2 separate regions of the Homo sapiens genome follow, and region 2 is linked to region 1. Evidence: fine-mapped expression QTL. A gene starts in region 1. The other region holds a variant in brackets. All regions are shown on one strand. Distances are from middle to middle. Region 1 holds the start of DOCK1 (dedicator of cytokinesis 1). Region 2 overlaps DOCK1 (dedicator of cytokinesis 1).

The links.
Region 2: its variant is fine-mapped to the expression of DOCK1 in unexposed skin (GTEx, PIP 0.98).

The regions. Positions count from the first base shown.
Region 1 is chr10:126,902,080-126,907,448 of GRCh38, reverse strand. DOCK1 (dedicator of cytokinesis 1) reads right to left here and starts at 2,021. Exons shown (of 52, transcript NM_001290223.2): 1 at 1,886-2,021. The coding sequence starts at 1,931. It overlaps LOC105378550 (a long non-coding RNA gene), which reads left to right and starts at 2,071. Exons shown (of 2, transcript XR_946449.3): 1 at 2,071-2,889; 2 at 3,007-5,369. It overlaps LOC124900289 (a long non-coding RNA gene), which reads right to left and starts at 1,718. Exons shown (of 2, transcript XR_007062336.1): 1 at 1-1,718. RefSeq lists an enhancer at 252-1,000.
Region 2 is chr10:126,938,623-126,943,991 of GRCh38, reverse strand. All of the region lies in intron 1 of DOCK1 (dedicator of cytokinesis 1), which reads right to left. Among named protein-coding and RNA genes, the nearest start is that of DOCK1, 36 kb to the right of the region's middle. The variant C/T (reference allele first, on the strand shown) is at 2,464.

The DNA.
Region 1 (5,369 bases):
CCTCTGTAGAATGGGAGCAGTGATGGCCCCCACTGCACCCCGATGGCCCCCACTACACCCCCAATGGCCACTACTGCACCCTGGCCATGGGCACCTAAGTTGCTTCCTCAGCAGGGCCAGGGCTATGGGATGCCTGCTCCTCTGCCAGCCTCCTGCCTCTCCTGCCTATCCACCTCTTCCTCTCTCTCTGCGTGTGCTGGTGCTAGGTTCCCTGGGAGTCAGTCCTCAGCTCTCTCCTCTACACACTACCCCCGCAGGGACCCCCACTGTCGCCACAACCCAAGCATTCTCAGGTGGAATATCCACCCCGAACCTCTCGCCTCTGATGCAGACTGAAGGCCCGTGCCAAGTGCCCCAGACTGAATCCATTAGGTGGTGCACAGGGTGCAGGTTACACACTGAGTCTGCAGTCAGATGAGCTCTCCTGCACTTTTGTGAATGTGTCTGGGCCTCAGTTTCCTCATCTGCAAAATGGGGAGATGGGGAGGAAGCTCAGTCATAATGGTCCTGAAGCAAGGAGGCCCCCTATGCCTCCCAGCATGTGGAACAAGCTAAGTGCAGGCCCGGTAGGACCCAGGGCTGTCCCAGGACTGTCCCCGTGACCACTGTCCAGCTGGCTCCGTGGTCAGGGCATACTGTAAGTCATTGACAGCAGAGAGAAGCAACTGTTCACAGAAAGGAGAGCGCTCCGGGGACAAGGGCTGCCAGGGCGCTTCCCAAAAGTCAGAGAGCCAGGATTCGAACCACACCAGCAGAGGGTCGGGCAGGTCCAGCACGGGCCAGGCACAGAATGGGCGCGGGGCTGCTGCTGAGACGGTGCCCTTGGAGGACACAGCCTGGGCTGTGGGAGGCGAGACCACCAAAGGTCTTCCCAGTCGGGTCGAGTGGCCTGGATGAGGCAGGCGGTCAAGGATGTCTGTGGATGGTGGGACGGGGAATAGCAAGCCCGAAAACCAACTGGGAAGATCCCGGACCCGGGAGAGCAGGAGAGTAGCCACGGCCCAGTCCCGACACCAGGCGCGCAGATCACGAAGAGGTGGGCGTCCGCAGGCCTCGGCGACCGGCTGCGGGTCCCCGGGGCGCAAGGATGCGGGTCCCACGCGGACGGGCCCGTCTATTCAGCCGCAAGGGAAAGCCTCCCTCTCAGGAATGCGCACTCGGGTCCGAAATGTAAACTTGCAACCCGACTCCTTCCATCCCCCCTCGGAAGCGACAAAGAGCCGCGGAGCAAAAACAGGCCCCCGCTCTCCCGGAAGGGTCTCCAGGCCTGGGGCCACTGGGGCGCTCGGCCGCTCGCCTTCTCTCCAAGGTCCCACACGGTCCCCAGCGAGACCGCCGAGGGGCAAGGGGCGCTGGCCACCCAGGTCGCGCCCCCTCCTCCCCGCCGGGAAAGGGCGGAATTATCCGCTGGGACCGCGCCGACCTGAGCCCGCCCACCCAGAGCCCGGACGCGGGACGCAAGTTCATCCAAGAAGCAGAAGCCGCCGCGAGACAGTGACCCCTGGGCTTCCCTGACGGGCCCAGCCGCGCAGATAGCAGCGGCCGGGGCCGGGGAGTTGGGGGTAGCCCGGGGGGCTCCACGGCAGAGGTCCAGAGGAGCGGGCGTCGGAGGGGACACCCTAGGGAGGGACGCGCCCGCCCCCATTCCCACCCCACCCCCTCGTGTTCCCGACCCGCATCCCCGGGGCTGGAGCTGACGCCGCCGGGGGCGCGGGGCGGCCGGGGTCGCCGGGCATTGCGAGCGGGGCGGCGGCGCGGGCGCGGGCGGAAGCGCCTCTCCCCGGCCCGGCGGCCGCTCGGGGCGGCGGCAACAGGCGCCCGGCACACCCGCCCCGCCGGAGCCTGGGCTTGGGGCGAGAGGCGCGGCGGCGGCGGCGCTGCTCACCCACGCCGTACTTCTCCTCGCGCTTGGTGGGCACCCAGCGCGTCATGGCGCCGCCGGAGCCGCCGCGGGTCGGGCAGGAAACTCCGCGTCTAGGCCGCCATTTTCCATTCCTTTCGAGCCGCGACAGGATGGGGAGGAAAAAGTTTGCGGCGGAGGCGGCGTCATGTGGGACGGGGCGGGCGGAGCGTCGCGGGCCGGATGGGAAAGGCCGGGAGCGCCGGCGGGAGGCGGGACGGCCGCGGGCTCTGCGCCCGCCCTCGGCGCGGACCCTGGGCCCCGACCCCGCGGTCGCCGGGGCTCCCCTTCCTCTGTCCCAGTGCGCCCAGCCCCGCGCTCCGCACCCGGGCACCCCCGCGGGGTTCTCCTGAGTTCCTGGAGCTCCCGGGGCTGGCGCTCACGCCGTGAGAGGGGTGCGCCCTTAGGGGGGCGGGACGGACGGGGGGTTTCTACGGGAGGTAGGAAACGGGCGGCTTGCAAGGCGCGGGCTTAGGCCGGAGCCTGGTGGTGCGAGGTCCCCAGCTCGGATTTCTCCCTGGTGGAGAGTCCCGGAGCAGAACAAACCAGCAGAGGCTCTGGAAAGGGTCCTCCTGAGCACGTGGCTCATTCATTCATTCGACAAACGTTACCTGAGCGCCTGCCCACTCATTGCCCGAGTGTGCTGGGAGCGCCGCACCAACTGCCTGGTAGGTGGGAGAAGGGACACGTCAGGTAACAAACAGCACAGGTAAGTGCCGGCCACTCAAATGGGGTGGAAAGAGGTGGCACAGCGCTGCCGAGGGAGTGCGTTCCAGACAGGTGACCTCTTGCTTGGGTGCTGAATGAGTGGAGTTTTCCAGAGAGACCAAGAGGAAGCAGCCGCAGAAACCTCAGCCCAGCTGGGCTTGCAGAAGCTAATGCTAGAATAGTTGTGGGACTCAGGATCTGCTGAAGTCGGGGGAAGAGAGAAGTAGGGAAAGGAAAGCCCAGGCCACGCGTGGGGCTCAGGAACGGCATCCTCGCCCGAGGTGGGAGTTCTTCTCAGGCCCTGGTGTTTCCCATGACAGTAAAAGGTGGGGGCTTCAGATTTCTCCAAGGGAAAAGTTAAAGCAACACACACCTATTTATTTTTACTGTAATTTCAGAAAAGAGAGGTTAAAACCAAGACATGGACAAAGCCTCCGAATGAAGGCAGCCCTTTAAATGGAATAAATTTGGTTTCATGGCACATTAATGGGGTGTCTTCTCTCCGAAGACACAGAGACAACTACAGTAGGTCTGGGGGCCGTCAGGGATTGGAGGAACGAAGGTAAGAAAAGGAAGAAGGTAAGAAAAAGAGGTCCCTACCTCTGTGAGGTAGGGACAGTGCTGAACAGCAGGGCTGGGAGAGCCCACAGGGAGGTGGCCAGGATGGCCACAGGGCCTGGGGAGGACCAGGTGGGGCACCATCCTGCGGTAGAGAATGCCCGTCACCTGCCCTAGGGGCCACCCAGAATGCAGATTAAATAAGTATTTGGGAATGGCACAGGAGCTTTTCCATTTTCGTGGGTTAGAGGAAAGCTGCTGCGTTCAAGAGGATAACGTGGGACCTGAGCATTCTGGTAAGTCAACCCCACATTCATGGAAAGCCACGGGCTCTGTTTTACTGATAAGGAACTGAAGTCCCACAGAGGAAGTGGCCAGGCTCACTCACACACAGCATGCACTTGAAGCTTTCTGTGGAAATCAGAAACCTCCGGGGCTCAGGCGCTGTAGTGGTGGCCTGGTGACTCTGACCCCTTGAAGGAGAAGCATCTGTGAAGGTGCTGTCCAGGACAAGTAGGGTGCTCTACGGTAAAGGACATGGTGGCCTGACCTGCTCCAGAGCAGGGAGGCCTCCCTTGAGGAAATAAGATAAACCCAGACTTTAAGGATAAGCAGAAACCAGCTAGGTGAACTGGAGTGGGAACAGCACGTGAAAAGGCCCTGGTTTAGGAAGGAGCACCACTCCTTCAGAGCACAGAAAGGCCAGGATGGCCGAAGCATAGGGAACAACAGGAAAGTGACATAAATTGAGGCTGCAGAGGTAGAAGAAGGGCCTTATTGGTCGTGCTAGGAATTTGGAATTCTGCAAAGAAGCCTGGGAAACAGATTTTGGTGACACTCGCCTTCTCTTTAATGTGCAGTTTCAGTTCTGTTGGTGTGATTCTGCATTGGAGATGGCGTGCTGTAACGAATGGCCAGGAGCTTAAGAGTCATGCAGACTTGGGAGGCCTGGCCTTGCCACGCCCAGCTGCATGGCCATCCTCCTCCTGTTTCTGGCCGTTCTGTTTCTAAACCTTGGGGTTCTGATATTCCTACATGTAAACTAGGGGCTGTAATAGGAATCTCACAGGTGAGTCTTAGGATTATAAGAGGAGACATGACTGCATGTGTAAGACATCATAATGATGTGCTTCCTCATCTGACCCTACCTCCAGGTTCTTTGATAACCTCATGGTTCCCATTTTCTAGAACAGTTGCCACTTGCACTCAGATAAAGGTGACTCACTGAATGCATAAATAAGTGTAGTGCCGGATTTGCATACTTTTGGTAGACTGTCATATAATAAATTTATAAATCAGAATTTTAAAACTCCAGGTGGGGCCGGGCACAGTGGCCCATGCTTGTAATCCCAGCCAGCATTTTGGGAGGCTGAGGCAGGCAGATCACTTGAGGTCAGGAGCTCGAGGTCAGCCTGGCCAACCAGGGTTTTAGTAGAAACCCTGTCTGTACTAAAAATACAAAAATTAGCTGGGCGTGGGTGCGCATACCTGTAGTCCCAGCTACTCAGGAGGCTGAGGCAGGAGAATTGTTTGAACCCAGGAGGTGGAGATTGCAGTGAAGCAAGATCGCACCGCTGCACTCCTGCCTGGGTGACAGAGTGAGACTCCATCTCAAAAACAAACAAAACAAAACTCCAGGTGGACCACGGGCCAGGTGGTTGTAGCTTCAGTCCCTTGATTGCAACATGTGCCCAAGTTTGGCTGAGATGTACCTGTAGCCACGGTCCTTGAAGCCCTGAGAAGATTTGTCAGCATCCCCACGGTGCTCCAGCAGTGCTCTCATCTTGTGGCTCTAAATCGAGTCCATGGCCCTCTCTCACTGTCCTATGGTTGCATAAGCTCAGAACTGGCTTCGTCTCCAATTCCAGGAGCCCTGGAGGTTGTGGCCTGTTGACATTTTTACCTCCTGAGTCAATGTGGCTGGGCCACAGGTCTCAGTTGCCCTCCCAGGCATCTTGCAGGACTTGGATCTGTGCCAAGCTTGTGGGTGTGAACAAGCCCAAGAATGCTGAGGCTCTCAGTTGCTCAGTGCTGCCCATCACTGGGATTTCAGAGTAGTGACCCCCCTCCTCCAAGATACAACAGAATCTTGCTTTGGGGCCATGAAGAACACAATCAATATTACAGTTTTAAATCTTGAAAAGTACAGTTTTAATTTTTTTAATTCCAAAAAATTTCACACATGTGCACTGCAAATTCAGGA
Region 2 (5,369 bases), 37 kb before region 1:
ACCCTTCAAGAATCATCCACTCTGAACCTTTCAATCACCAGCCACTGCTCTGAGCATTAAGTCCAAATTCCTCCAGACAGCTTGGGACGACCCTGCTTGGCACCCAGCCTCGCCTCGACTCACCCAGACTGAACTTCAGTGGTCTGTGCACTCTTGCACCTCAGGGCCCTCAGCTAAACTGATGCTACTCCTTCCTACCCCTCTTCATCTCATTAACTCATATCTAATCTCTTCAAAGCACCTATTTAAAAAGCCGCTTCTTCCAGGAAGCCTCCCTTGGTAGTCCTTTCTCCCTCCTACCATTCACAGCTGTCTTGTGGCTGCCTACTTACTTGCCAATCCCCCATATCTACTTCAGTCCCTATTGTATCCCAGGGCCAAGCACACAGCAGTCATTTTGCAGGCACAGGGTAAATATTTACTGAATGCATGAATTTAGCCGAAATCCACTGAATGATTGCATTAACTTAAATAGCATTCAGTAGGTGCTTACATACACTTACTCGTTTAACCTCAATCTTATGCTACAACCACTATTACTACTCCCATTTAACAGAAAGGCTGCACACAGAGATTAACTTGCCTCAGGTCAACCAGTGCTAGGTCTAGGATCTGATCCCAAGCAGTTTGGTTCCAGCACCTACTCTCTTGACCTCAGAAAAATTAGCTTGCCAAAGAAAGTAAGGCAGTCAGGTTCAAAGAAGGTCTTAAACCTTTCATTTGTTTGTTTTTATTTTTTGAGATGGAGTCTCTCTCTGTCACCCAGGCTGGAGTGCAGTGGCACAATCTCTGCTCACTGCAGTCTCCGCCTCCCACGTTCAAATGATTCTCCTGCCTCTGCCTCAGTGTAGCTGGGATTACAGGCACACACCAACATATCTGGCTTTTTTTTTTTTTGGTAGAGATAGGATTTCACCATGTTGGCCAGGCTGGTCTTGAACTCCTGACCTCAAATGATTCACCAGCCTCAGCCTCCCAAAGTGCTGAGATTACAGGCGTGAGCCACCACGTCCGGCCTATTTGTTTGTTTTTAATGATCATTTCTAGATGAACAAGAAAAAGAAATCAATATATTTTAGGATAGTAACTAAAATCACAAAAGGTCAGGAAAACTAAAAGAATTTATACTGAGGTCATGAAACATGTAATCTAGTTAAGCATTTTCTGGAAAGAAACATCTTGCAAATAAACGCCCATCCAGAGGAATCATCAGCTATCCCCTACTTTCCATTAGAAGCTTCCCAACAGGACAGATCATGCTTATCTTTTAATGAATTTGTGTAACATTGAGTGTATTTACAGTAAAAATAAACGGGATAATGGAACTCTGCTGCATCGCAGATCCCAGGGTCCCAGATGACGGCTCCCTCGGGGCTGGCTCGGCTCCCTCGGGGCTGGCTCGTTCCATTAAGGAAACTTCCTGCAAATCAGAAGGAAGGAGCAGCTCCATCCATTCCTCTCGCATTCTAACGCTTGTAGGTCTTCACGATTTATTCTACTGTTCTACCTGCCAACCTGCTCCCAAATGAATCCAGTGCACAGCTTCCACCTGAAACTAAAAGTGAGCTTCACCCCACTCGAAAAGAAACCTAGAAGAAGGAATGAACCCATCTCCTCCTTGAGCTCATTCCTCAGGACTCACAAAACACTCAGAAAATGAGCAAATATCGGCTGGGCGCGGTGGCTCACACCTATAATCCCAGCACTTCGGGAGGCCGAGGCAGGTGAATCACGAGGTCAGGAGATCGAGACCATCCTGGCTAACATGGTGAAACCCTGTCTCTACTAAAAGTACAAAAAATTAGCCGGGCGTGGTGGCGGGCGCCTGTAGTCCCGCTACTCGGGAGGCTGAGGCAGGAGAATGGTGTGAAACCGGGAGGCAGAGCTTGCAGTGAGCCGAGATCGTGCCACTGCACTCCAGCCTGGGCGACAGAGCGAGACTCCGTCTCAAAAAAAAAAGAAAAAGAGCAAATATCAGAGTGACAACACACATCCGACACCCTCTTGGCTCTCCCCTCCTCATGATGTGACTTTAGAATCCTTTAAACAAAGCAGCTTAAAAGAGAATAATTGGCAAAATTATCTTCCCATGGGACTTTTAAGTCTGAGCACCTCACCTGCAAAGGCGGGCTGAGAAAGGCAAAGTTGTCTAGGAAAGGTGATTATACACTACTCAGACAGGTACAATCCACAAATGCTGTTTTTTTTGTTTTGTTTTGTTTTGTTTTGTCTGTTTTGAGATGGAGTCTCGCACTGTCGCCCAGGCTGGAGTGCAGTGGCACGATCTCGGCTCACTGCAAGCTCCGCCTCCCGGGTTCACGCCATTCTCCTGCCTCAGCCTCCCGAGTAGCGGGACTACAGGCACCCGCCACCACGCCTGGCTAATTTTTTGTACTTTTAGTAGAGACAGGGTTTCACCGTGTTAGCCAGGATGGTCTCGATCTCCTGACCTCGTGATCCGCC[C/T]GCCTTGGCCTCCCACAGTGCTGGGATTACAGGCATGAGCCACTGTGCCCGGCCCACAGATGCTGTTTAACTGCGGTTTTGAAGATGTTTTTGTTGTTGGATTGGTTTTACTTTTGTGTTTTAAAAGACTAAAGTTAAAACTAGCACCATGAAATGAAATATTTCATCAGAATTTAGGTAATGCAATCTATCCATAAAACAATCTTTTTAAACTGGTTTTTAGAGGTTTCTTTACACAGTATAGCATCTCCTCTCATAACCACAGGATACATCCCATCAAACTTACTCTTGTCCCCTGTGTCCACTAGACACCAATAAAAACAAGGAAGCTACCAACACTTTCTGGGAGTTTAAACAGCTGAAATGCCCTCTGGTAACACTGCACGGCAGATAAACCAACCGAGCACATTTTATGAAGAATGTCATCCTCCCAGACAATGACCAAACAGATGACTCTGGACCAGCAGGTCCCTGAAATATTGTGATGGAAAAATGTGAATGTACAGATGATAATTACTTTGGTTGTTTATCCATCTGTTTGCTTTCTCATATATATGGATTCATGACTACATTTAATCATCCTCCGAAGAATCATCTTGGTGAGGTTACAGGGCAATATAATAGAGTCACTGTAATTCAATAGACGCTTTTGATTTCCCTGATAAGATAGAGTTAGCAATTACTGTTTGCTATCACAACTCCAGTTCTTGTCAATACAAGTCAAATTTTACTTGATAAACTAATTACACAAACCCTGGCCAACTACAAAAAAAGGCACTCTGACTTATTTGAACTGAGAGTTTGTTTACTAAAATAGGTACTTTGGGCCAGGCGCAGTGGCTCACGCCTATAATCCCAGCACTTTGGGAGGCTGAGGTGGGTGGATCACTTGAGGTCAGGAGTTCGAGACTAGCCTGGCCAACATGGTGAAACTCCGTCTCTACTAAAAATACAAAAATTAGCCGGGCATGGTGGCAGGCGCCTGTAATCCCAGGTACTTGGGAGGCTGAGGCAGGAGAATCATTTGAACCCGGGAGGCAGAGGTTGCAGTGAGCCGAGATTATACCACTACACTCCAGCCTGGGTGACAGAGACCCTGTCTCCACAAAATAAATAAAACACATACTCTGAATATTGAGTACGAAGTGCTGCAGACTCCTGTCATCTAATATGGAAAACCACCTGGTTTGAAAGAATAAACAGAATGGTTTGCATGGATGTCTTCCTTCTAGAACAGTTTTATTCCAAATTATTCTCAATCAACTCCCAACTGCAAATTAAACCAAAATTACAAAGCAAGGCAAATCACTGAATCCCCAAATACTTTGATTCTGCCATCATCCCTGTAAACCGTGATTAATTCACAGGGCAAATTTCTTATCCATTACTGAGACTACAAAGAAATAACCAGATTAGAGGCAAAAACATCATTTGTGAAAAACAATTCTCAAAGGTTGGAAAGGCACTAGAGAGGAGTTGCACCCTTCTCCTTCTTGCTTCTCCTCCAAATCTGTCTTACCCTAGACTCTCCCAATGCCAGCCCCAACTCAGGGCTAAATGCAGCCACCAGCTCATGGAGGCTCCTATTCAGGCAACAAGGTAGGCGTGGCCTTCAAAGGACAAAGGAAGCAGTCTCCTTCATTGGGGACATGCGTCACACTTACAGCTGCCGAGAGAGGGACCCAAATACAGAAAGGCCTAATAATCTGACTTCTGGGATTAACAAACACCAAACCAAAGCATCCAAAGGAATGAAAGCAGCAGCACTAATCCACTTCCCTGAACTACAGCCCATCACAGAACACTGGTCTCGTGACGACTCGGACTCATCTGGACTGAAGAGTTTGTTTTCTAAAATAGGTATTTTGGGTCAGGCGCGGTGGCTCACGCCTGTAATCCCAGCACTCTGGGAGGCCGAGGCAGGAGGATCACCTGAGGTGAGTGATTACTAAATCAAGCTGCTACAAACGAGAGAAAAATTAAAAGATAACTTTAAGTTAAAGTAAAAACACTGATGTCCCTTAACCTACCAGCCTAAGAAATACAGCAAAAGTAAACAGGTACATGCAGAAATAGAAAAATTCATCCTAGAATTTAGATGAAATCTCAAAGGACCCTGAATAGCCAAAACAATCTTGAAAAAGAACAAAGCTAGCGGACTTGCACTTCCTGATTTCAAAATTTAGTACAAAGCTACTGCTATGGTCTGATGTCCCCCAGAATTCATGTGTTGAAACTCAATAGCCAATGTCATCGTTTTAAATGGTGGGACTTTGAGGGGTGACTAAATCAGGAGGATGAAACCTTCACGGATGGAATCAGGCCCCTTATAGAAGAGCTTAAGGAAGGGGGTTCCTTCCCTTGCATCCCTTCTGCCATGTGAGGGCACAGTGTTCATCCCTTCCGGTGTTCATCCCCTCCTGTGTTCATCCCCTCCGGTGCTCGTCCCCTCCGGTGTTCGTCCCCCCCCCGGTGTTCATCCCCCCACCGTGTTCATCCCTTCAGGTGTTCATCCCCTCCGGTGTTCGTCCCCTCCGGTGCTCATCCCCCCCGGTGTTTGTCCCCCCAGGTGTTCGCCCCCCCAGTGTTCGTCCCCCCGTGTTCATCCTTTCAGGTGTTCGTCCCCTCCTGTGTTCGTCCCCTCCTGTGTTCATCCCCTCCAGTGCTCATCCCCTCTGGTGTTCATCCCCTCCTGTGTTCGTCCCCTCCTGTGTTCATCCCCTCCGGTGCTCATCCCCGCTGGTGTTCATCCCCTCCTGTCTTCATCCCCTCCGGTGTTCATCCCCTCTGGAGAATGTAGCAGCAAGGTGCCATTTTGGAAGCAGGGAGCAGCCGTCATTAGACACAGAATTTGCTAGTGCCTTGATCTTGGACTTCCCAGCCTCCAGAACTATGAGAATAAATTG